2 linked regions of the Homo sapiens genome follow. The protein of the gene in region 2 purifies or fractionates together with the protein of the main gene of each other region. This does not show direct contact. Each region holds a gene or a part of one and is shown on either strand. Other genes may lie near its edges.

Region 1 (2,192 bases), on a different chromosome or scaffold from region 2:
ATGCAGTCTTAGGGCTAATAGCAGTAGTCATGAGTCTCCCGATTCCTGAAGCTGCATATTCACAGAAATTCTTACAAATATTGTCATTCACTAGCAACCCCTATGAGATATGGCTTCTTCAAGAATGGAGTATTTTTCTGAACTTACTCTTCTAGATCTAAACCCTTCTATATAAAATAGGAAGAGAAAACAACAGATCCACGGGACAGATCACTCAGATGCAATACCAGTTGAAACTCAAAGGGAAACAAATAGCAAACAATGGAAAAGAGCTCTAAAACTGAGAAACTGGCATTCTTACCGGGTCTGAGAACCATCTGTTGGGTATGTTTGGCCTTTGTTGATCCACACAGACTACCTTCCTCATATCTTCAAAACTTGGGTCATTGGGAACCACATCGTAGAACGGTGGCTTGTAATCCTCCACTATACCTGCACACAAGGACAAGAATTGTGTTCGGTTAGCAAGAGAGTACAGGTTGCCCCAAGGTTTCATTGATGGGTGTCACAGGTTATAATGTGACAGAAGAAAATACTAATCACCTTCCTCATACCTCAGGGCAGTCCTGGAAGCTAGAGGTAGGTCCTAAAACAGGTGGGAGAAAAAGGCAATAAATACACACCCTGCATGGTATTGGAAGAAGGATAATTGTTAGAAGGAAATACGTGAAAACTTCTCATGTAATCATAACTATTAGCAAAATTCTCCAACAGTGTATATTAACAGCTCTGTAACGCCCAACAGGGCACTGGAGACATAGAACAAAAATTCCTTTGGTGATAAAAACCACCCAAGCTACCTATGGAAAGTACCTGAATCTAGTGGTTTCAAACCATAAATAGAAATAAAAAGTTGTCCACAAACTAGAGCTAGGGAGTAATAAACCAAGACCATCATCAAAATACCCCTTTCTTTGTTAGAAAAGTATTTTGTTAAGAAAAACATTGCTATAAATTAATCTCTTCCATTAGGAGGGATGCAAATAATATCATAGGAAATACTCATTTCCTCATTCATTCATTCTACATGTACTGAGTACCCTCTAACTACAGGCACAGCTGTCTGACTGATGGCTCTATTATTTACTATCATATTGAAGGCACAAAATAAAATGTAAAGAGGATAGCCATGTGGGAAGGCAGAGGAAAAGAAGGATAAATAATGAACTCTTCCTCTGCCCAAAAGCAAATATGAACAGTAGCTAATACCAGCTTCTGCCCCTGCATGATTTCCAATGGCCTGGAAACTTTTTCTTTTCCAGCAGAATTATATCAACTCCTTAAACAGAAAAATTTTTAACTTCATCATTTGGAATTAGAAAATGGATTCTTCCCCTTCATAGAAATAAAACCAAGACATCTATTATTTCCTTTCCCTCAACAAAGGGTTCAAACAATGAGGTAATAACTTGGTTTACTGCTCTCTTTTCTTCCTCCAGGCGACTTTCTTCTATTCCTAAATACCTAAGAAGTTGTTGGAGGCGACAGAAGGAGTGTGAGGAAAGTTGTAATTCGGTTGTTCTAGTTCCTACAAGCCACCTGAAAAGCTTCAATTCCCTTTTCATTTATCACAGAAATTACTCAACAGTGGGAATCCATCCTTACAAATTCCATACAAATACAAACCATTTATGCAAAAGATTAGATATAAGGAGCATCTTTTCAAGAAATGCTACATATCTTTTTAAAACTTCACAAATTTGGCTAAATAAAGGTTTATATTTGAGATGGAAACAAGTCTAAATTATATTTTTTAAAAATCTAGGCTGGGTGTGGTCGTTCACGCCTGTAATCTCAGCACTTTGGGAGGTCGTGGTGGGTGGACCACTTGAGGTCAGTGTTCGAGACAAGCCTGGGCAACATGGCAAGACCCTGTCTCTACTAAAAATACAAAAATTAGCCGGGTGTGTTGGCGCGTGCCTGTAGTTCCAGCTAACTCAGGAGGCTGAGGCACAAGATTTGCTTGAACCCGGGAGGTGGATGTTGCAATGAGCCAAGATCAGACCACTGCACTCCAGCCTGGGTGACAGAGTGAGATTCTGTCTCAAAAAAAAAAAAAAACTAGTTAATTCCAAATAACTTACCCACATTGTGTAACTGCATTTGAAATGCATATCAGTCAGTGGATTAAAACCTTTCCTGGCAAATCATAAACATCATATTGGGTATAAACTGCTACTCTCAGAAATCTT
Region 2 (5,421 bases):
TGTATGCTATCAATTTTTCAGCCCAAACACAGATGTCAGTTCTCACAGCCTGGTAAGTATAAACCTCTTAGATGAAAAGGAGTAAAAGTCCTGTCCCCCACAAGCCCATCGGCCTCAGAAAGAGGGATGCTTTCATGACCATTTCCTAGTCAGAATGGGATGCTTCAGAAGTCTACTGTCATAAAAAGCCAGCATTTCCAGAACATGACAATGTAAAGGAACTAGTTTTCCAAGTGCTTTCACTTATTTTATTGTGTCCTCCCAGCAGCCCCACGAATTAGGCAGAACAGGATTATCACCTCCATTTGAAGATGGCACAACTAAAGCTCAGTGTTTTGTTAAGTGCCCAAGGTCACCCAGCTAGTAAGTCATAACGGTTGACAGAACTTGGACTGGCTTCGGCCAATGCTTTCCCCTTTTCCTTTGAGCCAGCCTCAACTTCTGTCCACTGCAATTAAACGCAGCCTAAAGGGATTGAAGTGGGTTGGCCTTATGGCCCCCAAGGCTTCCATAACTTCTGCAGCTCATGGCAGAATTTTTCACATGTAATTTTTATGTGCCTAGACACACGACAAACCTCAGAAAAGAAACTGGCCCTATCTGCATAATTTCTGGGGAAAATGCTCTGCTCCAGTTACAGCAAGACAGGGAGTTCTTGTTCTAGGGGTGGCGCCATCAATCTCTGGATGCTTAGAGATGCATCCTTATCCTTATCGGCAAAGCTGCTGCAATTAGTAGACAGGACTGCACGGTTGTGAGGTCAATTTTAAAAACTGAGATATAATTTACATACAATAAAATGCAGAGGGCTTAAGGGTACATATGTTTGTATATATAAATATACATCATATAAATATACACATGCATCTCCCTGTAACCAGCACTCAAAACGAGACACTGAACATTTTCATCACCCTAGAAAATTACTTCATACTTCCTCTTCCCGTCAATCCTTCCAGTCCTTTAAAGGGGAATTTCTGACTTATCATCATCCATGAGTTTTGCCTGGTTTTGTACTTCATATAAATGGAACTATACGATATGACTTTTTAGATCATTTGTTTAGTTTGGCTTCTTCTTATTTTTAAAATAAGCAGGCACAGAAGGTACAACAGAAAGAACACTGGGCTGGGATAATTGTCCCTGCTGAAACAAGTGACTGGATTTAGAACCAAAGGCCTCAGGACCCAATCCTAGGTCTTTCACAATGTATACATGGCCCTTTAACCAAATCTCAGTTTTCTTCTATTGAAAGATGTGAGTGTAGAACTAAAGCATGTCTCAGGTGCCTTCTAAGTCTAAAAGTCCATGATTCTTAAGTGGAATTTAAAAAATCCAAGTGAGGATGCCCATTTTAAAGTCCTTACCAAATGAAGTTACACCCTTCCTTAATTTCGATGGTGCTGCTAAGAAACAAACCCCATGATTTTTAACTCCTTTCTGAACGCCGTCTTTGGAGATTAAGCTAAAGCTCATTAGGTTATAGCTATTATTTTCTCTTGACCCCATATGACATATCCTAGATTGACTCTCTCTTTATTAAAGTTAGCCCTGAATGATTCTCGGCTGTTCAAAAATTCGTATACATTTTAAAGCATGGAGATTTGCAACCACCAAACTATTTGAAAGATATTAATAAGCCCCCATTCTCAGTGACTCTGTCCTTCCCACAAAGCCCAGGCAGCCTCTCTGAACTGAATGACACTCTCCACAACCCTGCCATAGCTGATGGGACTAAAGTGAATACCCAACTTTAGCTGAACTATTCCAGTTCTTTCTCTTGAATTTAAAAGACAGAGACTGGCTGGGCGTGGTGGCTCATGTCTATAATCGCAGCACTTTGGGAGGCCAAGGTGGGTGGATCGCCTGAGGTCAGGAGTTTGAGACCACCCTGGCCAACATGGCAAAACCCCGTCTCTAGTAAAAATACAAAAAGTAGCCAGGCATGATGGTGGGCGCCTGTAATCCCAACTACTCGGGAGACTGAGGCAGGGAGGACAGCTTGAACCCAGGAGGCGGAGGTTTCAGTGAGCACAGATTGCACCATTACGCTCCAGCCTGGGCGACGGAATGAGACTCCATCATAAATAAATACACACATACATACATACAAACAAATAAAAGACACAGACTAAGGGAACTGGGTGATAATGACCCTGGAGAAGTAAGATCATAGTAAGCTTCAGAGCGAATACCATGGCAAGCCAAAGATCCGTACGAGCCAAAGATATGGAGAATAAAAAACCAAGAGCCTTTCAGAGGAAGTGATTCTGCAGGAGGAATCCATAAATATCTAAATGAACTGAGGCCAGAAATCAGAAAGAGATGGAAAAGCCATTACCTGCTAACTTTCCAGATTATGTGGCTATTACTTCCTATGCTCGGGGTACCTGAAAGTCCACTGTATCCTGCCAATAAAACTCCTATAAATTAAGCTAGTCTATGTTTCTACTCATTGCAACTAATACGCCTAAGACCACAGCTGCCCCCAAGCTCTGCAGGAACTCTAAAACGGAGGTCTGAGCAGACAGCAGCATCACTAGCATATGATGATGGTACTGGGTAAGCACTTAATTAACAATGGCTGAATTAATGAGAGCAAAACCCATGGGTTTGCTCTTACCCACTAGATAAGTCTGATTTGTTTGAAACAGATCGGTTATATGGTAACTTCATAGTAATCATATATCTAGTAGTAACGTACAGGTAGCCTCTTTATTTTTATTTTTTTAAATTTTTTTTAAAAGATGGAGTCTTGCTCTTGTCGCCTAGGCTGAAGTGCAATGGCATGATTTCAGCTCACTTCAACCTCTGTCTCCTGGGTTCAAGCGATTCTCCTGCCTCAGCTTCCTGAGTAGCTGGAATTACAGATACTCACCACCACGCCCAGCTAATTTTTGTATTTTTAGTAGAGACGGGGTTTCACCATGTTGGCCAGGCTGGTCTTGAACTCCTGACCTCAGGTGATCCATCTGCCTCGGCCTCTCAAAGTGCTGGGATTACAGGCGTGAGCCACTGTGCCCAGCCCAGGTAGCCTCTTTATAGTTGATTGCTCACTTCTATATCATTATTATAGTTGATGCTCATAAGAACTCTGAAAAACATTCCTACCTTACAGGTAAGGCAACTGAAGTTCAGACGGATTGACAAACTTGTTCTCCATGTACCTCTTTCTACACCTCCCTCCTAAAAGAAGGAAGGAAAGAAAAAAAATGAAGGGAGGGAAAAGAAATAAAACTAAATCAACCCAACACATCAGAACTGGGTCTCAAGCCTAGGTCTTAGGACTCCAAAGCGAGTTCTCATCGCTCTATATAATACTTCCTTAGATGATGACATTAGCTAGCAATTACATAATGCTAAGGCACTATTTTAAGGGCTTTACATATATTAATTCATTTAATCCACACAGCAATGCTGTGTGGTATGTTATTATCCCCACCTTAGAGATAAGAAAATGGAGGCACAGAGGAGTTAAGTAGAAGGCTCAGTGTCACATAGCTAGCAAGTGGCACAGCCAGAATTTGATACCAGGTTGTCTGGTGTTGCTGGAAAGCCATGAGAAAGCAGGTGGCTCTGCACCTGACCCGCAGCAGGTGCTTTGTGGAGATTTCTGGTTTGTGTATCTGAAACCAAAGCACACTGAGGCTAAGAAACCTTCACAGCAAGAACTCACCATTGTAACAGAAGACAGCTCTCCACTGTCTACAGGTGGGCCACACTCCCTCGTGTGCTATTTGGTCCTTTACAATCTAGCCATCCTGGACTACGGGCTATTTCTATAAGGCAGGCCATGTTCTTTCAATTCTTCTGTACCTTTGCACATTCTCTTCCTCCTACTGACTGTCAGAAGAGCTCCTATTCAAGCATCAGAGCCTAGTTCGGATGTTACCTCCTCCTTGTACTAGTCTTAGCTTTCTCTACTTTCCCTGGCAAAAGTAAATAGGACAGGGGCCTCTGTGTTCTCACAGCATCCTGTTCATACTTCCGTTAATGAGTACGATTTTGTCATACTCTATTACAGTTACATATTTACACATCTCCACTAGCTCCTCCTCCAGAACAGGTATAACTCTGCAGTCTCATAACCTAGCACAGCACTTGGTGTCCAGTGAAGGCTCAGTAAGCACCTGTGTCTGCTTAAACCCAATGGCTCTGATTTCTTCCACTCCTGTGAACCAGGCTGGCTCCAAACAGACAGGGACAGGCATGAACTGTGCAGGCTGTCTGGTGTTCCCTCTGCGTCCCAATACCCTCTAACTACACAGTATTTCCATTGTTTAACAGTTTGTTTTGGCTGGGCGCAGTGGCTCACACCTGTAATCCCAATGCTTTGGGAGGTCAAGGCAGGAGGATCACTTCAGGCCAGGAGTTCGAGACATTTCTCTACAAAAAATAAAAATTAGCTGGGCATGGTGGCGTGTGCCTGTAGTCCCTAGCTACTCAGGAGGCTGAGGCAGGAGAGTTGCTTGAGCCCAGGAGTTCGAGGCTGCAGTGAACTATGATCATGTCACTGAACTCTAGCCTGGGTGACAAAGTGAGATCCTGTCTCTATTAAAAAATAAAAATAAAATAAAAAACTGTTGTTTTCATATCAAACATTAGAATAAGTCTTACTGAAAAATCAGGGTTAGCACCCCTAACTCTAGTTGAAAGAAAGAGGAAAACCTCCCTCTGCTTTTCTCCCTATCGAAAAGAAACATCAGGAGATAGGAGACTAGAAATAATTCTGTTCTCCAGATAATATTCCCAGGATAAAGGATCTCCTTATAGGGAACCCTTCCAGCACGTGTTTGCTTACTCCCTTCATTTTCATTCTAGAAAGGAAGTAGAAATTAGGTCAAAGGAATTCAGTAACATTGCAAAATTCTCAGGGTTATAAATAGCCTCTTGCTCCGCCACTCAGCAGTACTGTAGCTCAATTGCAAACCACCAGCATAAGGGAGCTGTAGTTCCATATCCAGGCCCAGAGGGCCCCTTCCGGATTAAACAACTCCCCACCCTTCTACCTTCCACTCCTCTTTAAGCATTACAGATATAAGGATGATTTGGAAAACTCAAAATGCTACAAAACAGGAGACAGGCACACACTGACCTGATGACAATTTTACTATAAGTCATAAGAATGAAAGGCCAGTTTTTCAAACACAGAGCTGGGAAAAGTAGAGAAAAATAGGAACATTAGTGTCTCCAATGGAGCAGTCTCTAAGTGGCTTCTAGAAGGTGTGCTTATAAAATCAGCACTGTTACAGAAGCCCCATGGAGCTTTATCAATCACCCATGCAGTGACTGCTGCTTCACGGAGCTGGATTCTGAGAGCAGGATTGGAAACCGAATCTTAAGGAATGAAGTGAAAGATGATCTCCTCCTATTAGTAAGGAATTTGGGATGAAGAATGCCAGGTTTCCAGCTCCCCTCCTT

Evidence for each region. Proteins that work in one complex are often made in the same cells at the same time.
Region 1: the proteins of ELMO2 (region 2) and ACVR1 purify together in Homo sapiens (co-immunoprecipitation; one large-scale study listed by IntAct). This does not show direct contact.

The regions. Positions count from the first base shown.
Region 1 is NC_000002.12:157,738,139-157,740,330, forward strand, and holds part of ACVR1 (activin receptor type-1 precursor), read right to left. Parts: intron 433-2,192; coding exon 302-432; intron 1-301. UniProt on the Homo sapiens protein: Bone morphogenetic protein (BMP) type I receptor that is involved in a wide variety of biological processes, including bone, heart, cartilage, nervous, and reproductive system development and regulation.
Region 2 is NC_000020.11:46,395,586-46,401,006, forward strand, and holds part of ELMO2 (engulfment and cell motility protein 2), read right to left. Parts: intron 3,187-5,421; 5' UTR 3,112-3,186; intron 2,435-3,111; exon of another isoform or gene 1-2,434. UniProt on the Homo sapiens protein: Involved in cytoskeletal rearrangements required for phagocytosis of apoptotic cells and cell motility. Acts in association with DOCK1 and CRK. Was initially proposed to be required in complex with DOCK1 to activate Rac Rho small GTPases.